Homo sapiens: one gene and its partners. The protein of the gene in region 3 purifies or fractionates together with the protein of the main gene of each other region. This does not show direct contact. Each region holds a gene or a part of one and is shown on either strand. Other genes may lie near its edges.

What was found. The genes of interacting proteins can lie anywhere in the genome.
Region 1: the proteins of SDF4 (region 3) and CHST11 purify together in Homo sapiens (affinity purification with mass spectrometry; 3 studies listed by BioGRID and IntAct, with this or other methods). This does not show direct contact.
Region 2: the proteins of SDF4 (region 3) and GPRIN1 purify together in Homo sapiens (affinity purification with mass spectrometry; 3 studies listed by BioGRID and IntAct, with this or other methods). This does not show direct contact.
Region 4: the proteins of SDF4 (region 3) and KIAA1671 purify together in Homo sapiens (affinity purification with mass spectrometry; 3 studies listed by BioGRID and IntAct, with this or other methods). This does not show direct contact.

Annotation. Positions count from the first base shown.
Region 1 is NC_000012.12:104,599,948-104,603,447, reverse strand, and holds part of CHST11 (carbohydrate sulfotransferase 11), read right to left. Parts: intron 1,543-3,500; coding exon 1,457-1,542; intron 1-1,456.
Region 2 is NC_000005.10:176,595,302-176,597,729, reverse strand, and holds the end of GPRIN1 (G protein-regulated inducer of neurite outgrowth 1), read left to right. Parts: coding exon 1-922; 3' UTR 923-1,928; downstream 1,929-2,428. Other genes in the region: CDHR2 (cadherin-related family member 2 precursor), read right to left, coding at 2,058-2,198. UniProt on the Homo sapiens protein: May be involved in neurite outgrowth.
Region 3 is NC_000001.11:1,221,871-1,227,417, forward strand, and holds part of SDF4 (45 kDa calcium-binding protein isoform 2 precursor), read right to left. Parts: intron 2,099-5,547; coding exon 1,962-2,098; intron 1,488-1,961; coding exon 1,374-1,487; intron 1-1,373. UniProt on the Homo sapiens protein: May regulate calcium-dependent activities in the endoplasmic reticulum lumen or post-ER compartment. Isoform 5 may be involved in the exocytosis of zymogens by pancreatic acini.
Region 4 is NC_000022.11:25,039,716-25,043,215, forward strand, and holds part of KIAA1671 (uncharacterized protein KIAA1671), read left to right. Parts: coding exon 1-1,810; intron 1,811-3,500.

The sequences.
Region 1 (3,500 bases), on a different chromosome or scaffold from region 3:
ATGGACCTTCCATCCACAGGGGCGGTGACTTCAGATATAGCTTTTCCCATGACACCATATGTTACCCATAAAATTTGCAGCAGTGTTTCAGTAGTTTTGTTTTGAAGGAGAAAATCATCTGAGAACAGAGGATATCAACAAAAAGAAGGGAATGGTTTGCATCTGAGGAGCCTGTGTTGTTTTTGACACGGGTTACCAGAAATCCTATCCTTTGTTGAAGCACAGTTCTGCCTCTTCCTTAGGACAGGGTGTGTGTGGACAGGCTGGGAGACCTGCCTATAATATGGAGATTTTTTGGGCACCAAAGGGAACCCAACTATCAAATTCCCCACTGAGTCACCACCGAACCCAGTACAGGAAGCCTCAGGCAATACTGACTTGGCAATTAATGGGCTAATCTGGCCAAGTCACACCTCAAGACAGGGCATGAGTTAACCTAATTAGGCCACCCATGATGCATAAATTCAGGAGTCCATTTTTCCAGAAGGGAGTGCAGGTGAGAGATTGGGAAGGGGGGTAGGGGGCATCAGATAGTTCTCAAGTGCATCCCTTTACAAGAGTTCTAAAAATTCGACACCTTTGAGGCCCGTGCATTATCTTCCTCCACCAGGTACCTTGGTCCAAAGAAGTATTAAATTTAGTCAGAGACTGTAGCCAAAGCAGTACATTTTTCCCTCTTTCTCTACGGCTATCGAAGGTCCACTGATGCTGCTGCTAGTTGTTCACTTACCAGTTCTGGGCATCAAGTGCTAATTAATGTTCCTACAAAAGGATCAGCCCCAGAGTCTCCACATCAAGACCCACACACACCACTGAGGCTGTTGCCATGGCAACCAGGCCTCCTAACTTTGCACTAGCTTTCCACAGAAGACACTTTTCCTTGGTTGGAGCTTTTCTTTTGCTCAAAGAGGAGCTCTTTTCATAATTGATGGCACAGAGGCCACGTTTGCTGCCTCATTAAACTAACGAGTTAGATTTACTGAGGCAGTCACTTAGCAAAAGGTCCCCGCTCGCAAGGGAGTTTGCCAAACTGGCACAGTGAGGTGGGGCATCACTGGGCTTTAATATGTGGGATGTGGGAATGGGTGTCAAGTGTACCCATGTGCAACTCTTCCTTTGGGGATACCAAAGGGAAGACTGCACAGCTTCGGTGGACCTTTAATTCCCGAGTCCCATTGCTCGAACTTGAGACTGTTAATCTCAGGAGTTCAAACCCTGGGCAGGTCTGAATGCTTAGCACTAAACCTAGGCATTTCTCTAATTCTAAACATCCCCTGCTAGATTTTTCAGAGATGCTACATAGAAAAAGGGTGACGGAGAAAGCAACCACTGAAGGTAAAATGCCAGGCTGTGAAAGGAAGTTTTAAATCCCCCAAAGACCACAATTTTAGAGTTTTTAGTATCCATACCTACAAAAAAAAAAAATTCACATGCTGACAGAGTGCTTGAAGCTTACCTGGATTGGGTTGTAGAGTTCCTGCAGGGGGCTTCGGGACCCCTTCCGGCAGCAGATGTCCACACCAAAGGGATTCCTCCGCATGACTGAGGAAAGAAAGTGAAGGCTCATCAGAAATGAGCAACAAAGATTTGTTGTCTGTCAAAGAAAAAGGCACAGAGTAGGGAAGAAGAAACAGGCAGGAAAGAAAGAGAAAACCAGCTTCTAGCAAAGGAAGATTTCCACACTGTCCCTTCTCCAACAGCACAGCTGCTGTCTGTCTTCCCAACATTCAGGCATCTCCACACCCAGAAGGATCTAGATCATGCTAAAAAGTCTCCCCAGCAAGTGTTTTAAGAAAACAGGACAGGCATCTAAAGCTCATTGAAATGAAACCACTTACAAAAGATGGCGTAATGGCTGCTTCAAGACAGCAAGTTCTACCCAGCAGCAGGCTTGGTAACACATTTTAAGATTCCGCAGACTTCTCCAGCAACAGTCAATGACCTTTCATTCCTTGTCCCTGAAAGCTGGGCTTCTGAGAATGGGCAGGTCCTTCCCCAGGAGGCTCCTCCCACTGGACAGGTCAGAGGCCCAGCCTCCCCAAAACCTCTCCTAAATTATGTTACTTTTAGTGAAAATATCAGCATGAAGCAGAAAAGACAAGAGTTTATGATTCCAGACAGAGATGGTACTTACAATTAATAAAAGAGGGGGAATAAGTGAACTCCTCAAACCCCACCAACATTGAAGCCACCAAGAGCTCTTTTTAAATGGCAATGAATTCTTTCTTTTTCATTTTTCTTGTTCACTCTGTGCAGCCCCTCATGCATTATGTAACGCATAGTCATGGGCTTGATCATTATTTGTTGGAGGGAGGAGGAAGGAGGAAGGGAGGGATGAAATTGGGAGAGAGGGAAGGAAGGAAGGAAAAAAGGAAGGTAGGAGGGAAGGAAAGAGAGCAGTAGAGAGGGAGAGAAGGAAGGAGGGAAGGAGGAAAGGAGAAGGAAAGGGAGGGGAGCAAGCGAAGGAAGGAAGGGAAGGGAAGAAGGAGAGAGGAAAAGAGGGAGGAAAGGAAGGAGGAAAGGAAAAAAGGAAGCCGAGAAGGAGGAAGGAGGGAAGAAGGGAGGGAAGGAAGAAAGGAAAGAAGGAGAGAGGGAAAAAAGAGAGATGGGGGAAGAATAAATGGGGCTTTCTTCTCAAGTACGAGGCAGTTTTCTTATGGTTTGAGGTGCAACAGTGGCATGAGTGGAACAAGGAAAACTAGATCCTTTCATGAGCCTAAAGAATTCACCTGCTCCACAGAGGCAATGAATGGACAGCAGGACATTCCCTGGAACAGATAGCCTGGGTTTCAATACTGGCTCTACCACTACCAGCTGTGTGACCTTAAGGAAACTACCTAACCTCTCTGTGTCTCTGCTTCTTTGTCTGTAAAATGGGAATGACAGGGGCATCTAACTTCCTGGGTTGGATGTGAAGATTAAATGAGTAACTACTATGTGCAGAATGCTTAAAACTGTGCCTGGCCAAAAGCCACAGTTTAAAAGTGTTGGTGACAAATTTCAGAAGCTATTTTAGATCCCCCTGGGAGGAAGGCGGGAACTTCTCTATTTGTGGCTATCAAGGGGACTGATGAGGAGTGACCAGACCTCAAGCAGGGTGCAGCTCAAATGACTGGGAGGGCTGGCTGCAGGGGGTTAGCCCAGGGACCTCTGCTTAGAAGTCAATCTGAGGTCAGGAAAGGGAGGAGAGTCATCCAAAAGCAGCTGATGACATCTGGAAGGTCTCCGGAGGAAAAACTACTGCTCAGGTGAGCCTCCGTTGACTTGTCACTTTGAGCCACGTGGAAACTCTGAAAGTCAATCATCAATGCCCAGAAACAAGATGCCATGTTTTCTCTTTCCTTTTCCTTGACTTCCTAGGGCAGGGGTCAGCAAAATTTTCTGTAAGGGGCCAAACAGTATTTAGGCTTTGCACCCTGCAGTCTCTGTCATAACTCTTCCGCAGGGCCACTGTGGTGTGAAATCCTCCCCAAACGATACAGAAATGAATGGGTGTGGCT
Region 2 (2,428 bases), on a different chromosome or scaffold from region 3:
GGAGTCCCCATCCTTGGGGAAGGTGGTCCCCCTGAGTCTGGAGAAGACCAAGCCGTCCTCCTCCTCCAGGCAGTTAGACCGCAAAGCCCTCGGCTCAGCCCGGTCTCCCGAGGGTGCCAGGGGCAGTGAAGGCCGCGTGGAGCCGAAGGCCGAGCCCGTGTCCAGCACCGAGGCCTCCAGTCTCGGCCAGAAAGACCTGGAAGCCGCTGGGGCCGAGAGAAGCCCCTGCCCAGAGGCCGCAGCGCCCCCGCCGGGGCCGCGGACTCGCGACAACTTCACCAAGGCGCCGTCGTGGGAGGCGAGCGCCCCGCCGCCGCCGCGCGAGGACGCGGGCACTCAGGCGGGCGCGCAGGCCTGCGTCTCAGTGGCCGTGAGCCCCATGTCTCCGCAGGACGGCGCTGGGGGCTCGGCCTTCAGCTTCCAGGCGGCGCCGCGCGCGCCCAGCCCGCCCTCGCGCCGAGATGCGGGCCTGCAGGTGTCGCTGGGCGCCGCCGAGACGCGCTCCGTGGCCACTGGGCCCATGACACCTCAAGCCGCCGCGCCGCCCGCCTTCCCCGAAGTGCGGGTGCGGCCCGGCTCAGCGCTGGCGGCCGCTGTAGCGCCCCCGGAGCCGGCTGAGCCCGTGCGAGACGTGAGCTGGGACGAGAAGGGCATGACGTGGGAGGTATACGGCGCCGCCATGGAGGTGGAGGTGCTGGGCATGGCCATCCAGAAGCATCTGGAGCGACAGATCGAGGAGCACGGCCGCCAAGGGGCGCCCGCGCCGCCGCCCGCCGCCCGTGCCGGCCCCGGCCGTTCGGGCTCGGTGCGCACCGCGCCCCCAGATGGCGCCGCCAAGCGTCCGCCCGGCCTGTTCCGCGCGCTGCTGCAGAGTGTGCGCCGGCCGCGGTGCTGCTCGCGGGCGGGACCCACGGCCGAGTGATCTGCCCCCATTTTGTACGCCCGAGTTTCCGACCTTCTCAGGCTCCCTTCTTGATCACAGGCCCCTAGAAGGGGTCCCCTCTGCGTGCCACAGGCCTCCGAGGGGTTGTGCAGCCTCTAGGGCTGTTGCGTCCCCGTCTTTCCAGCCCCTCCCATCACAAATACAGAAGAACCCCTTCTACCAAGCTCCCTCGTGGCCACGAGGCCACGAACCCGGCCAGCCCTGACGCCCCACTGTCCCCTCACAGCCCTCAGCTCTACTCCCGGTCACACTGGGCGACCACGGGGGCCTGCTCAGCACCCTCACCTCCCACCCCCTGAGAGCTGGGGCAGGCTCCTGAGATGTCTAGACTGGTGCGTTGTGGTCTCCGGTGGGGCCAGATCCCCAGAACAGGGAGAGACTGCATACAAGTCTGAGTGGCAGAAGCTTCAAGTGGGTGAGGATCGGTGTGTGAGACCCGCGAGTGGGCACGTCTCTGAATGTGAGGTCTCGGGCAGCACGTGAGGTAGAACGAGTGTGAGCGTCTCCACGCAGTGGCTGGCCCCGTGGCCGGGGCGTCTCTTGCATGCTGTTGGTGGTCCTTCCCCAGTTCCTATCTCCCACCCGCCTGGTTCCAGCCCCATCCCCTCTCCCACTGAGTCACAGGTTTGAGATTCCCAGAGAGGCCAAAGACAGCTACAGGAAGTACCCTGGGGGCTCAGCTGAGAGAGAGTCACAGAAAGGCCAGAGGGTCTCAGGAAGGTCTGGAGGTCACAGCTGGGCTCACAGAAGCTCTTGGGCCCTGGCATCCTGGGTGACCGGTGTTCTTGGGTATTGGGGACAGGACAGAGAGCTCATTCTATAACCACAGTTGTCTTTTAAAGGCCACCCTCTCCAGCCCCTTGTCCCCCCTGTGCTGTGAGCCCAAGTCCCTTGTGACCACTCAGTGTCCCGTCCCCACCCCTCCAGCCGCAGTTTTTGGCTACAAACTGTCACAGTATACATTGGTAATAAAATATTTCCCCAACCCCTGTCTGCCGTGATTGGCCAAAAGCAGGAGGCAGGGCAGCGTCATATATTTTCATCTCCAGGGAGACAGGTGCAGTTAGGGTGTGGTAGGGCCTCTTCAAGGGGTCCAGAAGAGTGGGGGCCCCTGTCACAGGTCCGTGGTGTCCAGGCCAGCGTTGGTGTAGGATGGCCCCTCCAGCTGTCCACTTGCGCCTGCCTGCCGTCCTAACAGGACCACGCTCAGGGGCTCTGGATCTGGCTCTGGTGGTGTGTGTGGTGGCCTGTGCTCCTGCAGGGAGAGGGAGAGGAGGTGTGAAGGGCAAGGCAAGGTGGGGCGAGTGCCCCAGGCCCTAGGGGAGTGGATGGGCTTCAAGCTCACGACCAGTGGTTCCTTGGCAGGGGTCCCACCCTGCCCCTCCTGGGGCCTCTGGTCCAGGCTGTGTCCCAGAGGTGGCCCTGGCTAATGGTGATGCAGATTAGGGGAGGGGGAGGGTGTGGCCTGGGGGATTCACTCTTGCC
Region 3 (5,547 bases):
GCCCTGGAAGGTACAGCTGCAGGGAGCCGAGACTGCACCACTGCACTGCAGGCTGGGTAGCAGAGTGAGACCGTCTCATGAAAAAAGAAAGAAGAGGTGGTTTGCCTTGAGACTCTGGTGAGGAAATGTGTGTTACTGATAAGTTAAGCAGGCACAAAAAATAAAGGTGTAAGATACACCCAGCCTGCCAGGAGCAGCCCCGTATCACGTGACCAGTCCCGTGGGCGACACGGGCGCCCTGCAGGGCAGCAGAGAACCCACCCCAGGATGCCGGGCAGCGACGGAGCAGGCGACTCTGCACGTTCTCCTCAAAGCCCCAAACCAGACCACGGGCATGACCGGGAAGGGCACACGGAGCCCCAGGGTGGCAGCAACGCCACGGTACCCGCTCAGCTGTGCCTCACAACTGGGCCAGCAGGGGCTTCTGCCTGGACGGCTCTCCCAGACCTGGCCCCGTGCAGGGTGGCCCGGCTCTCCCCTCACCTGGCCTTAGCCCGGGTGCCGGGCCCCACCCGGCCCCACCCTCTTCACGCAGAGGCACCAGCTTGGACCCGCCCAGGGCTGAGGCTGCCCTGCTGGCCAACGGCCACACCCCAGACCCAAGGAAGAGCCTCTCCCTGGGACCTGACCGCTCTCTGGTGACCACCTGACGGCCACACAGATGTCTCCAGCAGACCCAGGCCTCAGGGCCAGGCCCTCAGGCACAGGCTGTGCCCTCTCCCCAGGAAACTCTGCCTCACGTGGCCTTCAGAGTACGGGGCAGGCCCCAACCCAGACTCACAGCCTCAGATTCTCTGCAGGACCTAACTGAGTAACGGCCGTGAAGGTGCCGTGACCAGCAGAGCTGAAAGCTGCCCAGGCACAGCTCACACGCTCCCCACCGGACTCCTGGGCGGCGCCTAGGTCAGCAACGGCTTCACCCACTTCCCTCCTGACAGCCACCACCAACCAGGTTGGGCCATGCTGTTAAGACGAACACGTGTGCACACAGCGGGTGTGAGGGCGCACTCACCTGCATGTACTCACGAGCCTACATGAACAGCTACCTGGATGTACTCACAAGCACACGCACAGCGCACTCGTACACACGACACGCACACACGTACAAGCACATGCACAGTGCACTCGTACACACGACACGCATACACATGTACTCACGAGCACACACACAGCACACGTACACACAACATGCACACACGTACTCACGAGCACGCGCACAGCACACTCGTACACACGGCACGCACACACGTACTCACGAGCACACGCACGGCACACTCATACACGACACACACGGCACACTCATGTACACACAACACACGCGCGCACACACAGGATGCCTGAGACCGGTGGCGGGAGCCTGGCTGAGCACTCACTTTCCTCATCCACTTTGAGTTCCTCGTTGAGCCTGATGGCGTCGGCAACCTCCTTCTCGCTATGGCCTTTACTCGCCAAAAACTTCACCTTATACTCGTCCCAAGACACGTGACCTGGAAGAGCAGATCACACCTGTCAGGGCCTCTGATACTGAGCTGAACTTCCTTCTCAACTGAGATGGGGTCTTGCTCTGCTGCCCAGGCTGGAAGCGGCAGGATGCCAGCGTCTGGAGCCCCAGGGCCCCGGCCAGCACCCCACACCCGTTTCCTCACCTGTGAGGCCAGCCGGCAACGTCTGTGCCTCGGGGCCACCAAGAGGCATAGACACCACCAGATGAAGGCCCCGAAGACATAAGAGGCGCCCTCCATGGGCCACGCCCAGTGCTTGGCACACACACCTCTGTCACCAGGATTCTGGCATCATGAACCCAGCTTCCGTGCACCCCACCACACCTCGGGGTCTCCGGCTGACACTTCCCCACCGCCCGTCCCTCAGACAGGGCCTGTCTGCCCTCCAGGCACCAGGCAAGGCCCATGGCCCTGCCCGCCCCGCCCACCGCCCCACCCACCCCGGCCCAGCCACAGTACCGTCCCCGTCAGGGTCCACGGCGCGGAAGTGTGTCTTGCTCTCCTCCATGGCCTCCTGGAAGTGCTCGGCCGTCTTCTCCATGATCCAGCGCTGCATCTCCTTGGCACTGATCTTCCGGTCAGTGTTCACATCCACCCTGCAAGACAGCAAATGGGCAGGTGGCCGTCAGACTGGGCCCCCAGGACCCCGAACAGCCAGACGGATGCCGCCGGCCCAGGACTCCATGGCTGCGTGAACCTGCCACCAACAGCGACAGGCTCCACCAGGCAACGCGAAAAGCGTCCGGGACGTGGGGCTTGTGGGGTGCCGGGCCACGCCAGAGACACTGGGGAAGGTGGATGCCACGGTCCCCTCCCCGGGGAAACACATGGACCCTCCCCCTCTGTCACACAGAATCACCACCAGACCCCACTCTCCAACCACAGCTTCCAAAAGTCACACTCTTCACGTTTTATTTTATTTTTTGAGATGGAGTCTCACTCTGTCACCCAGGCTGGAGTGTGGTGGCGCAATCTTTGCTCACTGCAACCTCCGCCTCCCGGGTTCAAGCGATTCTACTGCCTCAGCCTCCCGAGTAGCTGGGATTACAGGGGTGCACCACCACGCCTGGCTAATTTTTGTATTTTTAACAGAAATACGGTTTCACCATGTTGGGCAGGCTAGTCTCAAACTCCTGACCTCAAATGATCCACCCACCTCAGCCTCCCAACGTGCTAGGATTACAGGTGTGGCCACTGGGCCCGGCCCATGTTTTATTTTCGATGCTTCAGGTATGGCTACACAAAAACCTTCATATAGGCAGGACGCAGTGGCCACACCTATAATCCCAGCCCTTTGGGAGGCTAAGACAGGTGGATCACTTAAGCCCAGAAGTTCAAGACCAGCTTGGGCAACATAGGGAGACCCCACCTCTACAAAAACAATTACGAAAATTCGCCAGGCGCGGTGGCGTGCACCTGTGGTTTCAGCTACTCAAGAGGCTGAGGTGGGAGGCCTCCCGAACCTGGAATGCGAAGGTTGCAGTGAACTGTGATCACACCACTGCACTCCAGCCTGGGCGGCATACCGAGACCCTGACTCAAAACAAGACAAAACAAAATCCTTCATATAAATTTAAGTTGTGAGATTTAGGAAGAAGACCGTGTGGGGACTTAACATTGTGTGCAAGGATGGAAGAGACCACAGACTTGGGGGATAGGGACACAGACTGGGGACACGGGGCCAGCGCAGGCCAGGTCAGGAGGCCACAGGCCCCAGGACAGGTCACTCCCGTCCCAGCTTCAGAGCTCGGCTTCACCATTATGTCTTTGTGGAAGCCACAGGCTCCTACCCCTGCTGCAGCCGCCCGTGTCCTGAGCTCACCTGTTGGAAACTTAACCCCCAGGGCAACAGCACTGGGAGGCAGGGCTTCCAGAGGTGCGAGGTCTTGAGACCCCGGCTGGTGCGTTTGCCGGAGGCATCCCCGAGAGTAGGGTGCCCTGGCCCCTTGCCTCTATGCTCCGCTCAGGGGCAGCCGCGGCCACGTTATGAGGTGGCAAGCAGGCCCTCGTCAGGCAGGTGTGGCCTCTGGGACCTGGGCCAGGCAAGCTTCGAGGGTGCACACACCGCAGGCACGGCTCAGAAGCACTGGGCAGAGATCCTCATGGAAGAAGGCCAGGCTGCCGCTCACACGCGCCCCTCCCTCAGCAGCCGCAGCAGCCCAGAGGTGGACGGGCCTGGGAGGCACCCTCAGCTCCACAGTCCCCAAAACACACCGGCTGGGGACGGGGCCACCCGGGTGGCCATGTGGCAGGTGGGGCACCTGGTGGGTCTCACGTGGACACGTGCATCCTCGAATGCTCCGGTCACGCTCCACACGCGCCACAGACACAGGCCACACGCTCCACACGCCACAGACACGGGCCACACACTCCACATGCCACAGACACGGGCCACACACTCCACACGCTCTACACACTCCACAGACACAGACACACACGAGGCAGAGCAAAAAGCAAAAAGGTGGAAAGAAACCACATGGCGCAGGATTCCAGTCAAGATGTCGGCAAGGAGTCACTCATCCAAACTCAGGTGCCTGAAGACACGGCTGCAGGGCGGTGCACGTACATGGAGCTGGCACGCACACACGCAAGTGCACAGGCCGGTACCCACGTGTACACAGCACACACACGTGAACAGGGCTGGCAGAACACAGATGTGACTGGGCTGGTGCACACACGCATGTTATCAAGTTCTGGCTCCTGAGAGAACAAGGGCAAGACGCCCAGTGCCCAGACCCTGGCTTCCAGCTCCAGCCACGGGAGACAGGGCTTCCTGGAAAGGCGGCAGCTATTGCACTGGGGCAGGTGGCACGGAGGCGAGCCCAGAGCATCTCACCGTGCCAGGAAGCGGGAAGGAAAGCCTGGAGCATCTCGTGGTGCAGGGAAGCGGGAAGGAAGTGAAGCTCAAAAGCCCCTAGGACAGGGCACCTCCCCTCTGGATGCTCTTTCCAGAAACCCTCAACCCTGTACGGTCAGGAGGAAACATGGCACCTCCCCTCTGGGGGCTCTTTCCAGAAACCCTCAACCCTGTACGGTCAGGAGAAAACACATCCCACAAGCCCAAACTGAGGGACAGCCTAAAACCTCCTACCCAGCCCTTCTCAGAACTGTTACGTCCTCACAAAAACGGGAGAGTCTGAGACACCGTTCCAGCCCAGAGGAGACAGAGGAGACAGGACAGCTGAGTGAACGTGGGTCCTGGAGGGACGGGGCCCTACGCAGGAGAAGGGCGAGAAGGGACCCGCGTGTGGGAAGGGAAGTCTAAACACCCACAGCGGCCGCTGTCGCCGCTCGGCGCAGGAGTCAGGGAGACCCGGAGACCTGCTGTTACTTCCCACTCCCCATGCCCACCTCCTCAAACGAGACAGCTTGGGGTTTCGTTACAGGCACCAAAAAGAAACCCCGGTCCAGCTGGAGACGCACCGAGCAGAAGCCTCAACTCCCCTCGCCCAGGCGTGCAGCCCACCCCCAGCACCGGCTGAGCAGGGACGGGGACCCTTCCCCTGTGATGCCGCGAGCCAGGCCTTCGTGAGCTCAGGGGTGGTGAACCTGACAGGCCCCAGGGGCACCAGCAGCCTCTTCGTGGGTTGGTCAGCTCACCACCAAGTGAACTCAGGCCACGCAAGGACCCCCGAACCGTACCATCTGAGGAGAGGTGCAAGGGGACACCACACCTGGTGCCCAGGTCCTCCAGCTGGCACCGTGCCTCCGTCCCACCAGCTCACCTGTGCTCCGCCCGAAAGCCTGGATCCTCAGGGCCCTCCCGCCTGGCCCTCAGCCCAAGGGCCGTGGCACAGCCAGACCAGTCCTCACACCTTTCCTACCTGCTCCTGCACCCCAGGACCCCAGCCCTGCCCAATCCCCTTGCTCACCAGCTTTGCCACCTGCCCCTCTGCACTGGTCCTGGAGCACCAGGCCCGGCGGGAAGGCGAGCTCGTGGCCAGGCCCTGCGGGAAGGCGAGCTCGTGGCCAGGCCCGGCGGGAAGGCGAGCTCGTGGCCAGGCCCGGCGGGAAGGCGAGCTCGTGGCCAGGCCCGGCGGGAAGG
Region 4 (3,500 bases), on a different chromosome or scaffold from region 3:
GGGGCCAGAGGGGGCCAGAAGCAAGCCAGGAGTGGGAGCAAGGGGCCCACCCCAGGGATGCCCCCTCGATCCTCTTTCCAGGGCTACGAATGGGCCTTCTGACTCCCAAGCACGAACACATCCAGATGCATTTGCTGTGCAGAAAGGGCCCTTCATTGTAGCCGCCAGGGAGGGTGATCCAGGGCCGGCCCAGGTGCCACAGCCTGCAGTCAGAATGCGGAAAGCCGGCGCCATGGACCAGAGAATGGACAGATGGCGGCGGCGGACTTTACCCCCCAACGTGAAATTTGATACATTCAGTTCTCTTGTCCCAGAGGACTCTCCACATGTGGGGCACAGACGAACAGATTATGTGAGCCCCACAGCCAGTGCCTTAAGAAAACCTCAACTATCCCACTACAGGGTGGAGACCCAGGAGGTGAACCCAGGTGCTTCACGGGACCAGACTTCCCCAGCAGTGAAGCAAGGGTCACCTGTGGAACCCAAGGCGACATTTTTTGCAGTCACCTATCAGATTCCCAATACTCAAAAGGCAAAGGGTGTGGTTCTGTCAGGAGCTGAAAGCTTGCTGGAACATTCTAGAAAAATCACTCCACCCTCGTCTCCTCATTCTTTAACATCCACTTTGGTTTCTCTTGGTCATGAAGAGGCATTGGAGATGGCAGGCAGTAAAAACTGGATGAAGGGACGAGAGCATGAAAATGCAAGCATTTTAAAAACTCTGAAGCCAACAGACCGTCCATCATCTCTTGGGGCCTGGAGTCTGGACCCTTTCAATGGAAGAATCATTGATGTGGATGCCTTATGGAGTCATCGGGGATCAGAAGATGGCCCTCGTCCTCAAAGCAATTGGAAGGAAAGTGCGAACAAGATGTCCCCCAGCGGCGGAGCTCCCCAAACCACCCCGACTCTGAGGAGTCGTCCAAAAGATCTTCCTGTGAGAAGGAAGACTGATGTGATCAGTGACACGTTCCCAGGTAAAATCAGAGATGGCTACAGATCCAGCGTTCTTGACATTGACGCCCTGATGGCAGAGTACCAGGAGCTGTCGCTGAAAGTCCCTGGGGAGGCTCAGGAGAGGAGGAGTCCCACCGTGGAGCCCAGTACGTTGCCTCGGGAGAGGCCTGTTCAGCTGGGCGGGGTGGAGCAGAGAAGGAGGAGCCTGAAGGAGATGCCCGATACCGGGGGTCTCTGGAAACCGGCCAGTTCTGCCGAAATAAATCACAGTTTCACTCCTGGCTTAGGCAAGCAGCTGGCAGAGACCTTGGAGACAGCCATGGGCACCAAATCTAGCCCTCCCTTCTGGGCTCTGCCACCCTCGGCTCCTTCTGAAAGGTATCCAGGGGGCTCTCCTATACCTGCGGATCCCAGGAAAAAAACGGGGTTTGCTGAGGATGACAGAAAGGCCTTTGCCAGTAAACATCATGTTGCAAAGTGTCAGAATTACCTGGCTGAGTCAAAGCCCTCTGGTCGGGAGGATCCAGGCAGTGGGGTCAGGGTGTCACCCAAATCGCCCCCCACTGACCAGAAGAAAGGGACCCCAAGGAAATCCACCGGGCGGGGAGAGGAGGACAGTGTGGCCCAGTGGGGTGACCACCCACGTGACTGTGGACGGGTGCCGCTGGATATCAAGAGGGCCTACTCAGAGAAGGGGCCCCCTGCCAACATCCGAGAGGGCCTGTCCATCATGCATGAAGCCAGAGAGAGGAGGCGAGAGCAGCCCAAAGGGAGGCCCAGCCTTACTGGAGAGAATTTGGAGGCCAAAATGGGACCCTGTTGGTGGGAGTCAGGGACTGGAGACAGTCACAAGGTAAGTACCGAGACACTTTTTAATTTTGTCAAACATGGTTTAAACATCTAGTCTAGGGGGCCGAAACTCAGATTTTGTGTGGCCCACTTTGGGTACATAAATGAGTGGAGTCAGGCTGGGTATGAGGCTCCAGGGAGGGGTATGGATTGTGGCAAATGGAGAGCTCATGCCCTATCTGAACTGGACAACTGCTGCTTGGTCCCACCTGGTTCTTTGTTTGTTTATTTGTTTGTTTGAAACAAAGAGTCTTGCTTAGTTGCCCAGGCTGGAGTGCAGTGGCATGATCATGGCTCACTGCAGCCATAATCTCCTGGGCTCAAGCCATCCTCCCGCCTCAGCCTCCCAAATAGCTGGGATGACAGGCATGCGCCACCATGCTTGGCTAATTTTTTATTTTTTGTAGAGACAGGGTTTTGCCATGTTGCCCAGGCTGGTCTCAAACTCCTGGGCTCAAGTGATCCTCCTGCCTCGGCCTCCCAAAGTGCTGGGATGACAGGCGTGTGCCACCATGCCTGGCCCAGCTGGTTCTTCACAGGCAGGAATGCTGGCCTTGAGATGGCAAACCTCATTTATCAAGAGAATCTGAAAATCTAGATTTTTATGTGTAATCCTCCCATTAGGAAATGAGGAGGACTTATTTTTAAAAATGCTGTTCAGCCCAAACAAGACTTGTCTGCTAGCCCCATGCAGCGCGCCGGCCACCTGTTTTACACTTCTGTCCTACAATGACGATAATGATAGATATCAATGGTAGCTTTATTGTGCTCCTGCTGTATAATAGCCTGTTGTATCCTGTTCATTATTATGTCCCCAGAATCCAGCATCATGCTTGACATACTGTGAATGTTCAAGAAGTATTTGTTGAATGAGTGAACAAGTGATCTTACGTGAGCCTCAAAAGAGGGATCACCATGGTTTTGGGTTCCAGCAGTCCCTTGTTTTTTTTTTTTTTTTTTTTTGAGACGGAGTCTCACACTGTCACCTGGGCTGGAATACAATGGTGTGATCTTGGCTCACTGCAACCTTCGCCTCCTGGGTTTAAGCGATTCTCCTGCCTCAGCCTCCCAAGTAGCTGGGATTACAGGAGCCCGCCATCATACCCGGCTAATTTTTTGTATTTTTTTTTTTTAGTAGAGACGGGGTTTCACTATTTTGGCCAGGCCGGTCTTGAACTCCTGACCTCGTGATCCGCCCACCTTGACCTCCCAAAGTGCTGGGATTACAGGCGCGAGCCACTGCGCCCGGCCTGTAAGCACTTTTTAAGGGGGTGATCCCAGGAAGAACCAGTAGGGGAGAGAAGAAGTGAGGCAGGTGCTACAGGGGCCATGGTTGGCCACAGAGGCACATCTCACTGGGGACCCCGGGAGGCAGCATGGAACACCTCTGAAGTTGTCATGTCCAGGGGTCAAGGGACCTGGAGTATGTATTTTCCAATCCCTCTGTCCTTGCCTGAGGCTGTTTGTGGGGTCATGAACATTCAGACTTTTCCATCCTGGCTGGCACCATGCACAGCAGAAGAAAGAAAATCTGGCTTCCTTTGTTCAGTGAAGAACAGAGAGAAAGAGAAGAATGGATGGCAGGGTGGGGGGTGGGGAGGAAAGGAGGAAGGGATCACTTTAATTACAAGCACACCCTTTTGGGGGTACATAAGCAGAATAGCTGTGAAGAAACCCTCACCCAAATAAGCCAC